Homo sapiens: one gene and its partners. The protein of the gene in region 1 interacts with the protein of each later gene in a biochemical or structural test. Each region holds a gene or a part of one and is shown in the gene's direction. Other genes may lie near its edges.

Region 1 (2,710 bases):
TTTATTTATTTACAACTCAAAAAACATTGTTTTGTGTAACATATTTATATATGTATCTAAACCATATGAACATATATTTTTTAGAAACTAAGAGAATGATAGGCTTTTGTTCTTATGAACGAAAAAGAGGTAGCACTACAAACACAATATTCAATCAAAATTTCAGCATTATTGAAATTGTAAGTGAAGTAAAACTTAAGATATTTGAGTTAACCTTTAAGAATTTTAAATATTTTGGCATTGTACTAATACCGGGAACATGAAGCCAGGTGTGGTGGTATGTGCCTGTAGTCCCAGGCTGAGGCAAGAGAATTACTTGAGCCCAGGAGTTTGAATCCATCCTGGGCAGCATACTGAGACCCTGCCTTTAAAAACAAACAGAACAAAAACAAAACACCAGGGACACATTTCTCTGTCTTTTTTGATCAGTGTCCTATACATCGAAGGTGTGCATATATGTTGAATGACATTTTAGGGACATGGTGTTTTTATAAAGAATTCTGTGAGAAAAAATTTAATAAAGCAACAAAAATTACTCTTATTCTTCATTGCTTTATTTCAATGACATTGGATAGTTTAGTCACTCCCAGACTCTTTCCATACCTTCTTAAAGCCTCTCAAATATTGAACTACAGTTTATACTCCTTCCCATAAGATGCTTCTTCATTGACACTTGTAGAACACGGGGTCAACACATCATAAAATCTATTATGGAATGCCTGAGACAAGAATCAAACAGTCCCTTTAGTAAGTTTGTTTATTCACTTCTCTATTGATTCATTCAAGAAGTCTCATGCCAGCCCCACCTATTGGAAGAAGGTCTGAGTTTTATTCTTATCTCTTTGGTATTAATTCTGAAACTTAGAAAGTACACTGGTTAGCAATGCTTGGGACCAACAGGTTGTTCTGGTAAATAAATCTGTTTCATATTGTCAGTGCAACAAAATGTCCCCCTCTGCATTATGTTATTGGTACTCAACACGTCCGAGTCATAACTCTGTCCTTTGCTTCTTATAGAGGTATTAGGTCTTCAAGAGCAGAAGTAAGACTGTAATAGGGAATACTCAGGGGAAGGCAGGCAAAGGCTAGTCATCTAAACCAGTTCTAGATGTCTGTATAGGGGCAGATGGCTCTGTAAGGGCAGAAGGGAAAGACCCCTTCATAAGGGTCACAGCTGACAATCCTATAACAAAAGACAGGTTAACAAGAGAAAAACTTAACAAATTTATTTAATCACAGATTTACATCACCGGGGAGCCTTCGTAATGAAGATCCAAAATTACAGGGGAAACTGTGCATTTTTATGCTTAGGTTTGATAATGAATGGACAGCCCTGAAGAATAGTGATTGGAAAAAAAGGATATGATCTAATGGGAATAGACACAGGTTGGGGACCCAGCAAGGCCTGTCTGTTCAGATTATTCTTGGTCTCTGTGCAGCATTCCTTCCTCCTGGATATAGGGCAGGGCCTGTATGGGATGGGGATATTATAACCTGCTATCAAGCAAGGTAGGTCAGAGAATTTATTTATGGCCAGCTCTTACATAGTTAGGTGAGGAAAGATTAGAGTACTATCTTTAAGATGTAAGTCTGGCATTGTGGAAAGATGGTTCCAGTTTCTATGACCTACCTTGGGGAAGAGGAATTCAAGTTTCTGTGGCTTGCCTTCAGGGAGAATGAGGCTGAGACAGGAGGGCAGGATAACATCAGAGAAAAACTTTGCTTCTGAGGCCTTCACTTTGGGTTTTCTGAGCCCCAACATCTGCTAGTGTTGTAAAGAGAACAATTAGGGACCAAGTGAGGGGAGGAAAGAATCCATCTCTGCATTCTGATGCTGGGAGACTTATTTCCTTGAAATGCAATTGATTTTGCCTCTGCTAAGAGGCTCTGCTGGCTACCCATGTACTAGCCAGTGTCCTGCATGGGTGCTAGGCTGAATTATTTGTAATTGTGCTTAGGTGATTTGTAACTCAGGTATAGGGTATTTAAATAGTAGGCACCCTTTTTGCACCATGTGTTTTTTTTTTTATCTAGTTCTTGTATACTACAGATAATATTTGAACTTTGTCATCTCACTGTAAAACTTTTGTTCATTTCTCATTATGGTAATAAATAGCTATTATAACCAACCCATTTATTCAAATATGTTATTTCCCTAAGTGTTATTTTGACATTTTGTTTTGGAAAAAATAAATCACCATAGATAATAATGGTAGATCTATTTGCTGACCAAATGTCAGATGTTTTCAGGTGCTTGACATGCATTAATCCATTTGATTGCCTCCAACCCCACCTACCAGCCAACGTGGTCTTCAGTCATTGGGTTTAAACCTCAATATATTAAGTGTGATCATACAGGACTTTGCAGCAGGCTTAATTTCATACTTCAGCCATGCTCATTATAGCTTCCATTCCAACCTTTCTCTTAATTTCCTTATATCGCTTGATACCATTAGCCATTAAGTTCCTTTGTGGTCACAGGCAATGTGATTGAACCATATTCAGCTCCTATTGGAGAAGATGTCACCTCCTTTTGTTGTCTTGCACATCATAGTAGACACTATGTATGTTACTAAGAAAATTCAAGACCAGATGCAGTGGTTCACACCTGTAATCCCAGAACTTTAGGAGGCCAAGGCAGGTGGATCGTTTGAGTCTAGGAGCTCAAGACCAGTCTGGGCAACATAGTAAGACCATGTCTTAATAAATA
Region 2 (3,500 bases), on another chromosome or scaffold:
TGAAGACCCTCATGATCTCTTGGCTACTCCCACTCCAGAGTTGTTGCTCGATTGGAGGCAGAGTGCAGAAGAGGTGATTGTCAAGCTTCGTGTGGGAGTAGGTCCCCTGCAGCTGGAGGATGTAGATGCTGCTTTCACAGATACAGACTGTGTGGTGCGGTTTGCAGGTGTGTCCATCTGCCCTGAGCACAGTAGTATGTTTGAATCTTCTGATATCTCCTATCCTACCTCATGGACCCTGCTCTGTCCCCAGGTGGTCAGCAGTGGGGTGGTGTCTTCTATGCTGAGATAAAAAGCTCTTGTGCTAAAGTGCAAACCCGCAAGGGCAGTCTCCTGCACCTGACACTGCCCAAAAAGGTGCCTATGCTCACGTGGCCCTCCCTCCTGGTGAGTTCTAGTAGTACAGGGTTGGGTAGGGATACCAGTGTAGTCGACAGGGCCTGACTGCTGTATCTTTGGCAGAAGAAACCTCTAGGGACCCAGGAGCTGGTGCCGGGGCTGCGGTGCCAGGAGAATGGGCAGGAACTGTCTCCCATTGCCCTGGAGCCAGGCCCTGAGCCCCACCGGGCTAAGCAGGAGGCCCGGAACCAGAAGCGGGCCCAGGGCCGTGGTGAGGTAGGCGCAGGGGCTGGCCCCGGGGCCCAGGCAGGGCCCAGCGCCAAGAGGGCTGTGCATCTCTGCAGAGGGCCAGAGGGGGACGGGTCCAGGGATGACCCTGGACCCCGGGGTGATGCCCCACCCTTCGTGGCTGACCCAGCCACCCAGGTGAGAGCTGGGCACCTGTTTGGGTGTTAGGAGATGGGGGGAAAGGGTGTGCACTGGAGTGGGAGCCACCTGGCAGACCCAGGGCTGATTCTTTCCACAATCTTGCCATTAATAGGTTGAGGCTGATGAACAGCTTTGCATACCACCGCTGAACTCCCAAACCTGCCTCCTGGGCTCAGAGGAGAATTTAGCCCCTTTGGCAGGAGAGAAAGCAGTGCCTCCCGGGAATGACCCAGTCTCTCCAGCCATGGTCCGGAGCAGAAACCCTGGGAAAGATGACTGTGCCAAGGAGGAGATGGCAGTGGCAGCAGATGCTGCAACCTTGGTGGATGGTAAAGGTGGGGGTGGGCAGGCAGAGCCCTAGGTTGGGTTGCAAAGTTTGTAGGTGGATAGAGAGTAGCAATAGGCTGGAACCTGTCCTGGTTGGGGCTGAGCCATGGTCTCAATATAGAGCCCGAGTCGATGGTGAACCTGGCGTTTGTCAAGAATGACTCGTATGAGAAGGGCCCGGATTCAGTGGTGGTGCACGTGTACGTGAAGGAGATCTGCAGGGACACCTCAAGAGTACTTTTCCGTGAGCAGGACTTCACGCTCATCTTCCAGACCAGGTGGGTGGGTAGATGATGGGGCAAACAATGCCTCAGGTGGGACAGTATGTCTCATGCTCTTCCTCTTGTCCTTCCTCCTATCCTGCTGTGCCTCTGCAGGGATGGAAACTTCCTGAGGCTGCACCCGGGCTGTGGGCCCCACACCACCTTCCGTTGGCAGGTGAAGCTCAGGTGGGTGGTGCCCGGCCCCACCACTGTGCCTGTCCTACCCCGTGGGCTCCATCTCCCTGGCTCATCTATCCTGATGCTCATTCCTCCTAAGTCCCTGAGTTCAGCCTTTTCCCACAGGAATCTGATTGAGCCAGAGCAGTGCACCTTCTGTTTCACGGCTTCTCGCATCGACATCTGCCTTCGTAAGAGGCAGAGTCAGCGCTGGGGGGGCCTGGAGGCCCCGGCTGCACGAGGTCTGCACACGAGCTCCCTTCATTGCCCAGTTCCACGTGACCAGGACCCAAACCCCTGTCACATGCTGCTAACCACCAGCCCTCTCATTCCCCCTTTTTAAGGTGCAGTGGGTGGTGCAAAGGTTGCCGTGCCGACAGGTCCAACCCCTCTGGATTCAACCCCACCAGGAGGTGCTCCCCACCCCCTGACAGGCCAGGAGGAGGCCCGGGCTGTGGAGAAGGATAAATCCAAGGCACGATCTGAGGACACAGGGCTAGACAGTGTGGCAACCCGCACACCCATGGAGCATGTAACCCCAAAGCCAGAGACACACCTGGCCTCGGTGAGAATTCTGGGGTGGGAAGGACGAAGAATGGAGGCTGGAGAGTCTTGGGGCTGTTCTCTCATGTCGTCTTTGCTCCTGCAGCCCAAGCCTACATGCATGGTGCCTCCCATGCCCCACAGCCCAGTTAGTGGAGACAGCGTGGAGGAGGAGGAAGAGGAAGAGAAGAAGGTGTGTCTGCCAGGCTTCACTGGCCTTGTCAATTTAGGCAACACCTGCTTCATGAACAGCGTCATTCAGTCTCTGTCCAACACTCGGGAACTCCGGGACTTCTTCCATGGTGAGGGCAGGGCCTGGAGCCTGGGTTATGGGCAGAGAGAGTGCCTTTGTTCCTCACACCTTTGCTCGGCTACTATTCCTAGACCGCTCCTTTGAGGCTGAGATCAACTACAACAACCCACTAGGGACTGGTGGGCGTCTGGCCATTGGCTTTGCCGTGCTGCTTCGGGCGCTGTGGAAGGGCACCCACCATGCCTTCCAGCCTTCCAAGTTGAAGGTGATCTGTGACCACTGTCACCCTTGGCTGGAGGGGGCGGGGAGGGCCAGCCAGCTGGGTGTGCAGTGGGTGCTAGGGCTTCATGTTCACACCTTGGCTCCTGTATCCAGGCCATTGTGGCGAGTAAGGCCAGCCAGTTCACAGGCTATGCACAGCATGATGCCCAGGAGTTCATGGCTTTCCTGCTGGATGGGCTGCACGAGGACCTGAATCGCATTCAGAACAAGCCCTACACAGAGACCGTGGATTCAGATGGGCGGCCCGATGAGGTCAGGGTTAGGGACAGAGGGTGGGCATGTCTCATGAGCATCCCAGCCCCTGGTACTCTTTGGTTCTCACCACTCTGCCTCTCAGGTGGTAGCTGAGGAAGCATGGCAGCGGCACAAGATGAGGAATGACTCTTTCATCGTGGACCTATTTCAGGGGCAGTACAAGTCGAAGCTGGTGTGCCCTGTGTGTGCCAAGGTGTGATGGGCTCCCCTGGAAAGAGACCCCCTAGTTCAGCTCAGCTATTCTGGTCACATTAGGTTCAGAGGCATGTGCATCTTAAGGTGCTACAGGGCAAGGTTTGGGCAAAGAAGCTGGCAGGGAGGCCTTAGGATTCTATTTGGGCTGAAGAGCCCACTCAGGGTAGGCTTCCTGACTGAGGGAAAAGTGATGTTAGAGCTCAAAGGTGTTGTAGCAGGGTTGTGGGCACATGGGGTGCAAGTGTGAGGCCAATTCGTAAAGTGGCTAAGCTGAGTAGGGCTTTGAGTGCCAGAAAGAAGGATTGTTATTTCCTGGTGGTCCTCCTGCCCTGTCTAGTGTCCTGAAGCCTGAGAGTTTGCTGGTTGGCTGTGGGGGCCCTGAGAGCCATCAGAAGCCCCGGAATGGGCTCTCTGAGCATGAGCATCTTATCTCCCAC
Region 3 (3,500 bases), on another chromosome or scaffold:
CTCCCCGTGTCAGCCTGGTGGAGTGTGCACATTGACTGTTTGCCAGGCTGGGGTGCTGGTCTCGTTTCGGTTCTCCTTCTGGGAGGCAGCCGGAGAAGTCTGCCCCCGGGAGCTTGAACTGGGCATGCTGGGCTGTTGTTGGGGAGGCCTGTGCTCCGGGTTTCCTTGCGACGCTTTTGGCTCAGCACTGTTACACACGGTGCTCCTAGGTGGTCCACGGGGTATGCGTCAGTGCCTGTCTGTGGCCTCTGCCTCCTGGGTTCCCAGAGTGTCCTCCTGGTGCCCATGTCCCTGAGCGCCCCCACCTGCTCTTCAGCAAGGGCTGGGCTGCTTTGTACCTTGCCCTTCCCACTTGATTGTTTTTTCGGTTGATGTTTATTAATTTGTTTTTATTTATGTATTTTGTTGTTGTTGTTGCAGAGACAGGGTCTCCCTATGTTGCCCAGACTGGTCTTGAACTCCTGGGCTCAAGTGATCCTCTCACCTCGGCCTCCCGAAGTGCTGAGATTACAGGTATGAGCCCCTGGGCCTGGCCATCTGTTTGGTTTTTAGAGACAGAGCCTCACTTTGTGGCCCAGACTGGGGTGCAGTGGCTTGATCATGGCTCATTGTAACCCCTAAAACCTGGGCTCAAGCAGTCCTCCCACATCAGCTTCCTGAGCAGCTGGGACTACAGGTGTACACCACCATGTCTGTCTAATTTTTTTGTTTTGTTTTGTTTTTTTGAGACAGAGTCTCACTCTGTCACCAGGCTGGAGTGCAGTGGTGCAATCTCGGCTCACTGCAACCTCCGCCTCCCTGTTTCGATTTTCCTGCCTCAGCCTCCCAAGTAGCTAGGACTACAGGCGCCTGCCAGCATGCCCGGCTAATTTTTGTATTTTTATTTTATTTATTTATTTATTTATTTTTATTTTATTTTATTTTATTTTGAGATGGAGTCTCGCTCTGTCACCCAGGCTGGAGTGCAGTGGTGCTGTCTCGGCTCACTGCAAGCTCCGCCTCCTGGGTTCACACCATTCTCCTGCCTCAGCCTCCCGAGTAGCTGGGACTACAGGCGCCCGCCACCACGCCCGGCTAATTTTTTTTATATTTTTAGTAGAGATGGGGTTTCACCGTGTTAGCCAGGATGGTCTCAATTTTCTGACCTCGTGATCCGCCCGCCTCAGCCTCCCAAAGTGTTGGGATTACAGGCGTGAGCCACCACGCCCTGCCTATTTTATTTTTTTGAGAAGCTCTGTCGCCCAGGCTGGAGTGCAGTGGCACGATCTCAGCTCACTACAACCTCCACTTCCCGGGTTCAAGCAATTCTCCTGCCTCAGCCTCCTGAGTAGTTGGGACTACAGGCGTGCACCACCACGCCCAGCTAATTTCTGTATTTTTAGTAGAGACAGGGTTTCACCATGTTGGCCAGGATGGTCTCGATCTCTTGACCTCGTGATCCGCCCGCCTTGGCCTCTGAAAGTGCTGGGATTACAGGCGTGAGCCACCACGCCCAGCCAGAATTATCTTTTTAAGTTTCACACAAAGCCACATTTGGTTTATAATTGGAAGTTCTTTAACTCTGTAGAGCAGGTTGGGGAGAATTGACGTTTGTGTGGTACTGAGTCTTCTCATTCATGATCAAGCTATTTACTTAGGTCTTGAATGTATTTTGAGAGTTTTACAAGATTCTGCTGTCATGCATATCCTTTGTTACATTTATTCCTAGATGCTTGTATTTTAGAAGTCATAGTAAAAGTCAGCTTTTTATTATGTTTGTTGCTAACATATAGAAATTCAGTTGATTTTTCAAAGAAATCAGTGATTTTACTATTTTTAACCTAGTAACTTATCTATAGATTATTTTGTATTTTCAAAATGTATGTTTTGTCTTTTGCAAAAGACAAAGTTGTTTCTTTTCAATCCTCATACTTTTCTTTCTTTCTCTTGCCTGACTGTGCCAGTTGTCATAGTACAGTGTTGAATATGGTTGGTTGCGTGGATTACCCGTGTTCTGTCTTGACCTTAAGGAAGGTTTCCAGTGTTTTACCTTTAAGGACGATGTTTGCTGCAACTTTTTGTGGATAGCCTTTATGCACTTAAAAAGTCTCATCCTATTCATGACTTGCAAAGGCTTTTTAAAGAAATCATTATGAGTGGATGTTGAATATAATCAAGTACTTTCATTAAGAGGATTATATAATTTTTATCTTTTCATTACTATTGTGGTAAATTACATAAATTGATTTTATTTCTTTTCTTTTCTTTTTGAGACAGAGTCTCGCTCTGTTACCAGGCTGGAGTGCAGTGGCGTGATCTCAGCTCACTGCAACCTCTGCCTCCCAGGTTCAAGCAATTCCCCTGCCTCAGCCTCCCAAGTAGCTGGGACTACAGGTGTGCACCACCACGCCCAGCGAATTTTTGTATTTTTAGTAGAGACGGGGTTTCACCGTGTTGGCCAGGAGGGTCTCGATCTCCTGACCTTGTTATCCGTCCACCTCAGCCTCCCAAAGTGCTGGGATTACAGGCGTGAGCCACCATGCCTGGCCGTAAATTGATTTTCTAACATTAACCTATTCCTGGAAAAATACTAGTTTAAGCATGTTGTATTACCCTTTTTAAAAATTGGTGGATATATATTTATTTATGTATTTATTTTTTGAGACAGGGTCTTGCTCTTTTGCCTAGGCTGGAGTGCAGTGGTGTGACCATGGCTCAAGCAATCCTCCTGCCTCAGCCTCCTGAGTAGCTGAGACTACAGGTGCATGCCACTGGCCTGGCTAATTTTAAATTTTTTGTAGAGATGGGGTCTCACTATGTTGCTCAGGCTGGTCTCCAACTCCTGGCCTCAAGTGATCCTCTCACCTTGGCCTCTCAAAGAGCTGGGACTCCAGGTGTGAGCCTCCCTACCTGCCCACATTGGTGGGTTTAGATGATAGTATCTTGTTTAGGACTTCTGCATGTGTGTCTGGGGTCTATGTGCTTCCTTTCTTCTGTAGTCCTTAGCAGATTTTGGCGCTAAGATTTCCTTGTGAAATGAAATGAGTACTGCCTCTTTTGCTGTATCGTGGTATAGCTTATGTAAAATTGGAATCATTTCTTCCTTGAATGTTTGGGATAATTCACTTATAAAATAACCTGACTGGCCGGGCCTGGTGGTTCACACCTGTAATCCCAGCACTTTGGGAGGCTGAGGTGGGTGGATTACCGGAGGTTAGGAGTTCGAGACCAGCCTGGGCAACGTAGTGAAATCCCATCTCTACTAAACATACAAAAATTAGCCAGGCGTGGTGGCACGCACCTGTAATTCCAGCTACTCAGGAGGCTGAAGCAGGAGAATCACTTGAACTTGGGAGGCGGAGGTTGCAGTGAGCCCAGATGGCGCCACTGCAAAAACATTTTTTTTTGAACCTGCTTTCTGGGTCAGTGTGTCAATTTTAATGCACGTTCTGTTTATACTTAAAAGGAATGTGTGTTTGGCAGTTGATGGTGCAGTGTTTGTCTATTAGATCAAGCTTGGT

The links. The genes of interacting proteins can lie anywhere in the genome.
Region 2: of the proteins of BIRC3 (region 1) and USP19, one has a biochemical effect on the other in vitro, tested with the Homo sapiens proteins (one study listed by BioGRID).
Region 3: the proteins of BIRC3 (region 1) and PACS2 form a complex in vitro, tested with the Homo sapiens proteins (one study listed by BioGRID).

Annotation. Positions count from the first base shown.
Region 1 is NC_000011.10:102,337,194-102,339,903, forward strand, and holds the end of BIRC3 (baculoviral IAP repeat-containing protein 3), read left to right. Parts: 3' UTR 1-2,210; downstream 2,211-2,710. UniProt on the Homo sapiens protein: Multi-functional protein which regulates not only caspases and apoptosis, but also modulates inflammatory signaling and immunity, mitogenic kinase signaling and cell proliferation, as well as cell invasion and metastasis.
Region 2 is NC_000003.12:49,114,324-49,117,823, reverse strand, and holds part of USP19 (ubiquitin carboxyl-terminal hydrolase 19), read left to right. Parts: coding exon 1-167; intron 168-253; coding exon 254-387; intron 388-462; coding exon 463-765; intron 766-880; coding exon 881-1,097; coding exon of another isoform or gene 1,098-1,103; intron 1,104-1,216; coding exon 1,217-1,373; intron 1,374-1,472; coding exon 1,473-1,544; intron 1,545-1,661; coding exon 1,662-1,777; intron 1,778-1,879; coding exon 1,880-2,100; intron 2,101-2,184; coding exon 2,185-2,380; intron 2,381-2,462; coding exon 2,463-2,596; intron 2,597-2,706; coding exon 2,707-2,865; intron 2,866-2,950; coding exon 2,951-3,061; intron 3,062-3,500. UniProt on the Homo sapiens protein: Deubiquitinating enzyme that regulates the degradation of various proteins by removing ubiquitin moieties, thereby preventing their proteasomal degradation. Stabilizes RNF123, which promotes CDKN1B degradation and contributes to cell proliferation.
Region 3 is NC_000014.9:105,317,748-105,321,247, forward strand, and holds part of PACS2 (phosphofurin acidic cluster sorting protein 2), read left to right. Parts: intron 1-3,500. UniProt on the Homo sapiens protein: Multifunctional sorting protein that controls the endoplasmic reticulum (ER)-mitochondria communication, including the apposition of mitochondria with the ER and ER homeostasis.